2 separate regions of the Homo sapiens genome follow, and region 1 is linked to region 2. The links come from fine-mapping of genetic effects on gene expression. A gene starts in region 2. The other region holds a variant in brackets. All regions are shown on one strand. Distances are between the middles of the regions.

What was found. PIP is the estimated chance that this variant, and not a neighbour inherited with it, causes the effect. A credible set is the group of variants that fine-mapping cannot tell apart.
Region 1: its variant is the best candidate, but not a certain one, in a credible set for the expression of C11orf58 in whole blood (INTERVAL, PIP 0.68).

What each region holds. Positions count from the first base shown.
Region 1 is chr11:16,766,809-16,772,187 of GRCh38, forward strand. No RefSeq gene overlaps it. Among named protein-coding and RNA genes, the nearest start is that of C11orf58, 31 kb to the left of the region's middle. The variant C/CAA (reference allele first, on the strand shown) is at 2,640.
Region 2 is chr11:16,735,741-16,741,119 of GRCh38, forward strand. C11orf58 (chromosome 11 open reading frame 58) reads left to right here and starts at 2,907. Exons shown (of 5, transcript NM_014267.6): 1 at 2,907-3,101. The coding sequence starts at 3,039. It also overlaps a transcript of SOX6 not described here. RefSeq lists an enhancer at 2,781-3,410.

The DNA.
Region 1 (5,379 bases), 31 kb after region 2:
CTCCCAGGTTCAAGTGATTCTCCTGCCTCAGCCTCCCCAGTAGCTGGGATTACAGATGCCTACAACCACCTCTGGGTAATTTTGTATTTTTAGTAGAGATGAGGTTTCACCATGTTGGTCAGGCTGGTCTCAAACTCCTGATCTCAGGTGATTTGCCTGCCTCAGCCTCCCAAAGTGCTGGGATTACAGGCATGCACCACCACACCCAGCCAGTACAGGACTTTTTAAATAGAATACAAAACCCCACAAACTAGAAAGGGAAAAATTATCAACTCTACTACCTTAAAATTAGTAATGTCTATTCATCAAGACACCATGAAGAGAGTGGAAAAGCAAGCCACAGAGGGGAGAAGATATTTACATACAATCCCTAAGAGACTGTGGGGCAGATACTTCCCATGCTCCACCTCACATCCTCTCGGCCACTTTTTCCTCTGCTATGGCTATCGCTCCTGCAAGATGGCATCTTCACCCTGTGCCCCAGGGCTTCTCAGTGGCCCCAGTGTGGGGTTCATGTGGGAATCACTCACACGTGTATGATCTGGAAAAGTGAGGGGCTTAACACCCCACGGGGACCCCTTGGTCAAAAGGGGCCCTGAGCTAGAGGATAAGTGCTCCCTTCTTTCATTCTCAAGTGGATAATTTTGAGGTGCATTTTACATGGCCCCTTAGAAGGAAGGTCTCAGTGAGACTGAGTCCAAGTTTCCCACAACAGTGACCAGCTCTGGAGAAGCCCCTCTTCGGTTGGTTTCCTCTCATTTCCTTTCCACTGTGATTCCCTAGGACATTCCCAAATAAATGTTCTGCCTGCAAGCCCTGGCCTCAGGCTCTGTTTTCTGGTGGTAACCCCGGTTACCCTAGAAATCTAGAATCCCTACAAATCACTAAGAAAAAGATATGCAACTCAATAGAAAAATGTCAAGACATGACAGGCTTTACAAAAAAGGAAACCCAAGTGGTCAAGGAACATTTAAAAAGCTGCTTGACTCTGTTAATGGTCAGGAAGATGCTAGTTAAGCTTACTTCATACTCATCAAAATGGCTAAAATTTTAAAATAATGAAAAGTTTTGGTGGGTATATTGTCTACCACTGTGTGACAAATTACCTCAAAACTTGATGGCCTAAAACAACAAACATTTATTATCTCACCATTTCCACATGTCAGGAATCGGGGCTTAGCTGAGTGTCTCTGGCTCAGGGTCTCCCAAAAAGCTGTAATGGAGGTGTGAGCTAGGACTGCAGTCACCCAAGACTTGACTGGGGGGATAACTCACTTGCAAGTTCGCTCAGGTGATTGTGGCAGGTCTCAGGTCCTCACTGGTTGTGGTCAGGTGTCCGTTCCTTGCTGGGTAGACCTCCTTCCACTAGCTCACTACAGGGCTTCCCTCGCAGTAAGCAGGTGAGGATGCAAGGGAGAGTGCCCAAGATAGAGGCCTTTTTGTAACCTCATCTTGAAAGTGACATCCATTACCTTCTGGCACATCCTATGCAGTAGAAGTGAGTTACTATCTCCAGCCCACACCTAAGAAGAGGAGATTACACAGGGTGTGAACACCAAGAGGTGAGGATCTTTGGGGCCATTTCAGAAGCTGGCTGCCACAGTGAGGAGGGACAACAACTCATATAGTGATGGTGGGAGCATAAATTAGTACCACTATGTTGGAAAACAATTTGGCATTTTCTACCTCATGTGAAGATATGCTTATCCTCTGACATAGCACCTCTACACTTAGCATGCACACCAACAGACATGCATAGAAATATTAATAGCAGCATTATTTGTAATAGCAATATTACAGTAATGCTATTGTAATAGCAATAACATTATTGGTAAAAGCCCAAATGTCCTTCAACAGTAAAACAGATCAATAATTGTTAGGTAAAACAGATCAATAATTGTTGGATATTCATGCAGTGGAATACTGTCACGTACAGCAGCAAAAATGAGTGAAACAGTTATATGCGACACAAATAAATATAAAAGATGTTTAATGAAAACAAGTTGGACATAAAGGAATTTCTATCTGAGAAAATTATTCTATTCGTAGAAATTTCAGAAAACAAATCAAACTAAGCTACTGTATTTTGTGATGTCTGCTTAGACGGTAACACTGTAAAGAATAGCAAGTAAGTAGTTACCACAAAAGTCGGTGGAGTGCTTATCCGTTGCAGGAGTGGGAGGGCCTCCTGAGCAGGCACGGGCAGGACCAGGGCTGCCAGCACCCTGGCACACTTCTATTTCTCGACTGAAGAGTGGTTACGCAGGTGTTTGCCTTCTGATCACTCACTGAGCTGAATATTCTTTTGTGTGTACCTTCTATAGGTACGTTACATTTGCCATAAAGAAAGGTCTTGGCCGGGCACAGTGGCTCATGTCTGTAATGCCAGCACTTTGGGAGGCCAAGGCGGGCAGATCACCTGGGGTCAGGAGTTTAAGACCACGCTGGCCAACATGGTGAAACCCCATCTCTACTAAAAATACAAAAATTAGCCGGGCATGGTGGTGTGCACCTGTAATCCCAGCTACTCAGGAGGCTGAAGCAGGAAAATCGCTTGAACCTGGGAGGCAGAGGTTGCAGTGAGCTGAGATCATGCCACTGCCCACTCCAGCCTGGGTGACAGAGGGAGACTCCGTCTC[C/CAA]AAAAAAAAAAAAAAAAAAGAATGATCTCAGAAAACTACACACAAACTTACATCCTATTATCTAGTCACGCACAAAAGAAGGCCGAGGGCCTGGCAGAATAAGCACTTGGCAACTGTCAGCCTGTTTTCAGGGCTCCTTCAGGTGAGAAATCCAGGCACATTCATGTCTGCCTCACCCCTTCGCCATGCCAGGCCCTGGAAGGAAAAGAAAGCAGTAGAGTCCATAAGCCTTGCCATTTCCAACATGGTTTGGTCTGGAGAGAGGCCTCTCCTTCTGGGAGAGGACCCAGTCTTCTCCCTCAGTCATGGTGGGAGGCAGGGAGTGTGAAGGGGGTGTTGGCTGAGCAGACCTGGGGTCGGGAGTCAGGGATAGGAAGCCCTTTGGAGCAGTCACTGGAGCTCAGCTCTTGGAGACAAACTGCCTGCTCCATGTGGCTTTAGTGAGAAGACAAAAAAACCCTCTCTAAGTGCCCCCCAACCCCCACCCCTAGAACTTCAATGAAAAGGTCAAGGGAATTTTCCTCTCCTTTAAATGGAATGAATCTTTCTTGGGCCCAAAAAGAATTATTCATCAGGTGTTCATGGCACTCCGTGTGCTTTTACAGGGCCTGGCCGTGCTCTGAGGCACAACAGACAACTTTTTTCCTGAAAGCTCAGTTTATAGGCCAACTTCAAAGCTCGGGTTCTCAGAGCAGGGCACGAGGCTCCAGTTTGAGGACTCACATCAAAGGGAGGCACATAGGTTGATCTGCTGTCGGGTGGACAGCCGCAGGGCTGCAGGGGCGGCCTCCGAGGACTTGGCTGTCCTCTGCTCCTAGAGAGCTCGCGGGGGGTAGCCTGGCATGGCCCAGCCTTGCAAACTCCAACTTCAAAAGCCCCAGACCATCACTCTACCTACGGCAGGTGACTGTCTGAAATGGAAGGCAGAGGGTGGAGGGCAGAAGACAGGGGTCAGGGGATAGTAGATGCCCCCAAACCTGTTTATGCTGCCCAGTCAGGAAAGGAGACAGGCTTTAAATGTGGAAGAACCATGTGGAGCCCTGCTGTCCCGAAGGGCAAAACCAGCCCAGTGAATGCTTCTTGAGTGCTCCCAAGCCAGGGACTGTGTGAGGACTACCTCCTTTAGTCCTCACAATGAACCCTGGAAGGTAGGTCCTATTATGTTCATTTTTCAGAAGAGGAAACTGAAGCTTACGAAGTCCAGTGGTTTGCATACCTCAGTAGAGCTGTTGTGAAAATTAAATGAGTTAGTCCACAGAAAATGCTAAGAACAGTTCTCAGCACCATGGGAAGGATCAGAAAAAATATACATATTGGTTATCATTTACCTGCATTTAAATTAGTCACAGAATTAATAAGGGTAGATTGGAATTCCACAGTACCTGCTCTTATCTACTACTCAAGGGACTTAAGAGAGTGAGAGATGCTCTCTGGGGGCTACAGTATAAAACATGTAACAGAGCTGAGCAGAGATAGGCAAAGTCATCCCAAAAAGAGAGAGGGCTCCCTGGCCAACAGGCCTCAACTTCATTCATTTATCCATTCATTGAACAAATTATTTCTTAGCGCTCTCTTTGTGGCCGACATTGTTCTGGGCAGAAGGGATAATACAGTGAACAAGACAGTGTCCTTGCTTTCATGAAGCTTGTGTTCTTGTGAGGGAAGCAGTCAGTAAACTAGCAAACAAATAATTAAAGAACAAGAGTGTGATGCATATTAAATGACTGTAACTTAAATGCTGGTAAATAACTAATATGTATATTTTTTCTGATGCTTCCCATAGGGGCAAGAACTGATCTTAGCATTTTCTATGGACTAACTCATTTAATTCTCACAACAGTTCTACTGAGGTAGGTAAAAATATCCTTATTTTCCAGGTAAGGACATGGAGGCATGGAGAGGGGAAGTAACTTGCCCAAGTCACAGGGCTGGCAACCCGGATTTGATTCCAGACAGCCTGGCTCAGTGCGTGTCACTTCTGCACTAGGCTGTCTCCCTCCCATGGTGTCAACCTGTGGATGAGGGGCTGGCCAGTCATAGCCACATAGAAAAGAGCCACCTGAAGGGCAGTGCCATCTTCCTTTGTTCCAAAGAGGAAGCCCCGGTCCAGGAACATGAGCATCAGGTCTGCAGGACATAGTCTCCTGTCGTGGAGATAGTACCTCAGGTTGGTATAGCTCAGTAACACCAGGACTCTCCAAGACTGCCCTGGTCCTGAGACTTCCGTGTCTAAAGAAGACACGCATCCCAACCCCAGGTGGGGCTGGGGGTGGTAGTAGTAGTATCAGTGAATACCAGTAGCCAATCTGCCTGGCAGTTCGGTTCCCATCCAATTTTCTCCATCTGTCTCCCAAGTCTGGTCAGTGTGACTGTAGCCCTGAGAGACAGCCCCACTCTTAATGCTGACAAATCTGGTTTCTGAGTCCTAAAGCCGAAAGACCTGTGGCTAGGTCAAGTGTGCCTAAGTAACACCTCTCCAACGTGCCCCAGGCCATGCTCACTGTCAGATCGCAGCCACAGAGGGGGTTTCCATTCATCACACAGTAGGCACTGACACAGGCACTTTCCCAAACCTAAGTTTCTCTTCGGGCTGTCTGTGACATCATCGATTTCACCAGAGATTATTCTTTTTCAAAGGACCCAGAATCCAACTCTATAGGACCATCATCCCTTTCTCCACCAAAATCTTCCCATAAGTCCCCAGGAAGCTCTTCTCTCTCTCTTTTTTTCCTCCAAAGTA
Region 2 (5,379 bases):
AATCACCTATAAAAAGCACCTAGCAAAGTATATGGTACATGGTGGGTATTTAATAAATGGTAACTGTAATTAAGGCCCTAGGAATTTTTTTTTTTAGTCTCAAGTGAAACAGCAGATTTTTTGTACACAGCATAATCTTCAAAGCCTTTATTTCCTCTTCAGTTTTAACTATGGTCAATCATGACTATCCCTGGTTGAGAGCACGTACTCGACAAACATCTGTGACTGCCCACTACATGCTAAATGTTGGGAAAATTTAAAAAAATGTAAAGTTCTCAGTGACAGGGCCTCCTCTCCTTGTCTTTACTACCCAAGAAAGAAGAACATTGCTGAGTTTCTAGGCCTCATATAAGATACCACTCTGGTACTATATAATTTCATCCTTCCTATATTAATTCAGAAACATTTATTAACTACCGTGTGGCAGGCATTGCGCCAGAAACAAAAATGCAGATGCAACAGTCCCAATTCTGAAGGAGGTATTTCATTGTTTCACTCATGATAGTGTATCTTTGTTTTTACAATACAAGAAAGAGGAGCATTACTGAGTTTCTGTGGCATATATGCATTCTATTACACTGTATAATTTCATCCTTACCTATAGCCTTCTGTATATGAAACTGAGTAAAATCTGATAAAATGTCCCAGTCTTTAGTATTTCCTATGTTACTTTTTCGTTTGTGATCTTGTTTCACAGTAACTTGAAGATTTACCATCCAGGTGCCAACAATTCTGGTGAAGAAATAAAAGACATGTTGCTAGCTCATTAAAGTTTTCTGGACTTTCACCAACTAGTAAAATTAAAATTATATAGTAACTACTATTCTTATTGACAATCCTTTCTTATTTCAGAAATCTTTTAGCAGTCTAAAGTACCTATTCAGCCATCTTATTTGTTTTGGTAATATAGCTAATAGTTCTAAATCACCATTTGTCAAACCCATTAGAGGTGAACTGTAGTCGAAACTGCAAAACTCTGTAACTTAAATGTAATTTCATTGTAACTAATAGAACCTAAGTAGAATTATGTAGTAGTGAAAATATTTTAATTCTAGCAAAAAGCAATCAACCACTTCCTAAAACAATGTTTCTTTTTTTTCTCTTGGGTTTACTCTCCTCCTCCTTTATGATTTATTCTTACCACAGAACCATTAAGATGTTCTTTGTTTGGTTATACTTATAAAATGTAACCCTGACATCTCTTTTTCTATTATAGTACTTACTATTATGCTATTTTTCTGCTTCCAAAATAAGGGAGAATTTGAATCTATGACTGCATAAATTTAAAAACTACCTTCCACTGGTCACAGTTCAGTGAGGATCTGAAATCTAGGTAAGTAATATTTGTACACAGGCAGTGAAACTAGAGCAATTGCTGAGTTCAAAAGCTAATAGCTAAGCATTGTTTCACAGACTGCTCTCAGTTCTGAAACAGCAGATATGTATTATCCATACCACTTATTATTTATTTATTTATTTATTTAGAGACCGAGTCTCGTTCTGTCACCCAGGCTGGAGTGCAGTGGCGCCATCTTGGGTCGCTGAAACCTCCGCCTCCCGGGTTCAAGCGATTCTCCTGCCTCAGCCTCCCGAGTAGCTGGGATTAGAGGCATGTGCCATCATGCCAGGCTAATTTTTGTATTTTTAGTAGAGACGTGGTTTCACCATGTTGATCAGGCTGGTCTCGAACTCCTGACCTCGTGATCCACCCGCCTCAGCCTCCCAAAATGCTGGGGATTACAGGCCTGAGCCATGGCGCCAGGCCTAATTTTTGCTTAAAAAAAAAAAAAATCACATTTGTATTCAAGGTGAGAAAGCTTCAGAATTATTAAGGACAAGGATTCTGACAGAAAGTTAAGTTCAGACCTGGTTACAAATTCAGACACCTTAATAAAGTAGGAGATAGTCTTCAGTATCTGAACAATAAATAGCTTTAAATGCAGGGCTTTTTGAGTAGAGGAGTGATCACTTGAATCTGGAGAGAGGGCGAGAAATGGGGAGGGATTGCTAACGGGCATTGGGGTTCCTTTTGGAGTGGTGAAACTTCTTGGAATCAGAGGTGACAGCTGCACACGATTGTGAATGTACTAAGTGACAGTGGATTGTACACTTTTTAAAAAATGGTTAATTTTATATGTGAATTTAACCTCAATAATTACTTTTTTTAAAAAAGAAAAAAAATAGAGGCTTTTGTGGCAGGGATGGACTTTGCTTGGTGAAGGCCCCTACTGTAACGGTGCCCAGACATCCACAGCGAGGTCAGTGAGGAGCACTCCCACCTCACACAAAGCCATATGAAAACTTAACAGATTTCCCTCAGCTAAATCCCCGTTTTCAACAACCGCCAATTAGCCAACATTTAACAACATACTGAACTCATTTCTGTATGGGAAAACAGCGAAATATTCATGAAAACATTTAGAAAGCAGCATCACCGACCACCTAGAAATCCCCTGCGCGCAATAGAGAACACCAGGGTGGAAATGGTAGAAGCCATTTTTGGTTAAGGTTTTTGTCCTGGGTGGAGGGTATTCGTGAGGATTCAGTCAGCCTCAAACATTACATTTAAACATAGGTGCCTAGCTACGATGATACATTTGCCAGTAGGGCAGCGTTGCACGGTGAAAGGCAAAAACCCCTCTAAGCCTCCTCCTGTGGCGACAAAGCTCTCGGCCAACGCTCACCGCCATACACATCCGCGGGAACGCTTCCTCCACCAGCCGAAGGCGGGGCCTCTGAGGGCACTCCCGCCACACAGCGCGAATTGAGCCTCGGGGCTTCCTGGGAATTGTAGTTTTAGTCACGGACACATCTTTTTTATTCGGGCCAGTATGCAATGAATCAGAAAACTACAACTCCCAAAGTGCCCCGGGGCGGCGAGGGGCCGCAACGGTGACGACTGTGGCAGAGAAGGCCCGGAGGGGCTCTGCGTTCTGTAGTGGCGCTGCTTGGGCCCTTGGCGGATTGTAAGCTGCTGGTTTTGCGGCTGGGAAGAGCGGCGAGAGGGTTCGGCATTTTTCGTCGGGATCCCCGCAAGGATGAGTGCTGCCAGAGAGTCTCACCCGCATGGGGTGAAGCGTTCAGCCTCCCCAGACGACGATGTAAATAATAATGGCGGAGTGGCTGAGGGTTGAGGCCTACTAAAGCCTGGAGTAGGCCGGGAAGGGTGGTTGGAGGAGGACGCGCCTGAGGTGGCCTGCAGCGGGAGAGCCCAGGGAAGAAACCAGAAGAATGAGTGGGAAATGCCTCCCTTAATCTTTATGAGGGTCAGAAGGTTTGAAGAGGCCCACACGCTGAGAGCCGGAGACCTGCGTAGGAAGGGGGATTGAGGAAGGAAATTCTGAGAGGGTCGAGGAGTGAAAGAGCTTAGTCAAGGGATTTCGTACGTGCGTTTTGGGGGGCCGATGAGAGTGCTTTCTCGGGCCTTTGTACTCAGTATAGAGACGGCAAGACTCTCCCTGTTTTGGGTTCTAAATGTTCCCGTGACAATGTCGAAATGTTCGTGCACGTTTGTACAGATTTTTCCTGCCTGGATGATTTTTACAATGTGCTGTTGAGAGTTAACTTTAGCTGCACTAGTAAGGGTAAACCGAGAACAGTATTGAGCCGAAAATTGTGCCACGGGTGTAATTTGGTACTGGCTCTGGTGGTGAGGTCTAAGACGTTGAGACCTAGAAGCCCATTTTGATGTCGGATATTAATACCTCGTTCTTCTTACCTCGTCTCCCCATCAAATGCCGTTCCCTTCCTCAGCCCTCACCTCATAGGTTTTAATAGCAAACGGTTTATCCCTTAAAGTAACCCGTTAAATATTTACTGCACTGCCGGGTGTTGGGAATTCGGAGAGAAATATGATGCTTATTTTAGGCCTTTTTGTATATTTGTCCTAGCTCCTAGCCCAGTGTCATGGAAACGGTAGGTAACCAGTAAACGTAAAACTAGGTCCTTCATACAATGGATAAGTGTCTTGGCAACGTTGATGGGGAAAATTGTTGGAGAGAGCGCGGAGAGGTCATCTTTAAGGAAGATGAAGGGATATCTAGGTTTTTTTTCGGTTTTGTTTAAAGTACTGTCAATTTCTGAATACATAGAGCTTTAAATTTTTCGATAGTGCATTTCAACGCTCTTCATAAAATTTTAAAAGCCCACTGAATACTACTTTGTAGCAAATGAGATAATGTTAAGACCTACCCCTCTGATGGGAGGTGGGGCGAGGACCGGAATATTAAGGATCTTTAAAGGAATCGACTTCAGCTCTGCAGAAAGATTAGCAATCAGTAAAGATTTGGGGATGAATGGGCACCTAGAGAAGTTTATTCTTGCTCTCTGTTATTTCTGCTACTGGATTTTAGATCTTGTTAATATGGTAATTCAGGTTTTGTCAGGAATTGATCCACACTTTTGAGTAACCTGGCTGCCACTTAAAAAGCTGTTACATTGTTTTCCTCCTGATCTTTAAATGTGACTTGATTGCTAGGATATCAGACACCTGTTTGGAAATATCTTTTAGCGTGACAGAAAACTCCAGGTGATATGAAATTTAACAAAGTTAAAGGGATTAAGTCATTAAGTTTACAGCTTCGGAAGAGGTCGGTTTAAACTAGACGACCTTGAAGACCTTTCCCAATCATATAAGCGTATCTTTAAGTACCTGGGTTTTGTTTTTGTTTTGAGACAGGTGAGACAGGGTCTCTGTCGCCCAGGCTGGAGTGCAGTGGCACGATCGATCAGTGCTCCCTGCAGCCTCCACCTCCCTGGCTCAGGTGATCCTCCTGCTTCAACCCCCTCTTCCCCCACCACCACTACAGTAGCTCGGACTACAGGTGTGCACCATTACACCCGACTAATTTTTTGTATTTTTAGTAGAGACCAGATTTTGCCACATTGCCCAGGCTGGTCTCCAACTACTAGACCCAAGCGATCTGCCCACCTCGGCCTCCCAAAGTGCTGGAATTACAGGTGTGAGCCACCTCGCCCAGCCAGTACTTAAAAAAAAAATTTTTTTAACCATAAGTAATGCATTCATTAAAATACCTCCAAGCTGTTGCAGAAAAAAAAAAAAAAACTAGCAGGCCGGGCGCGGTGGCTCACTCCTGTAATCCCAACACTTTGGGAGGCCAAGGCAGGCGGATCACGAGGTCAGGAGATCCAAACCATCCTGGCTAACACAGTGAAACCCCGCCTCTACTAAAAAAATACAAAAAAATTAACCGGGCGTGGTAGCGGGCGCCTGTAGTCCCAGCTACTAGGGAGGCTGAGGCAGGAGAATGGCGTGAACCCGGGAGGCGGAGCTTGCAGTGAGCCAAGATGGCGCCACTGCACTCCAGCCTGGGCGACAGAGCGAGACTCTGTTTAAAAAAAAAAAAAAAAAAATCTAGT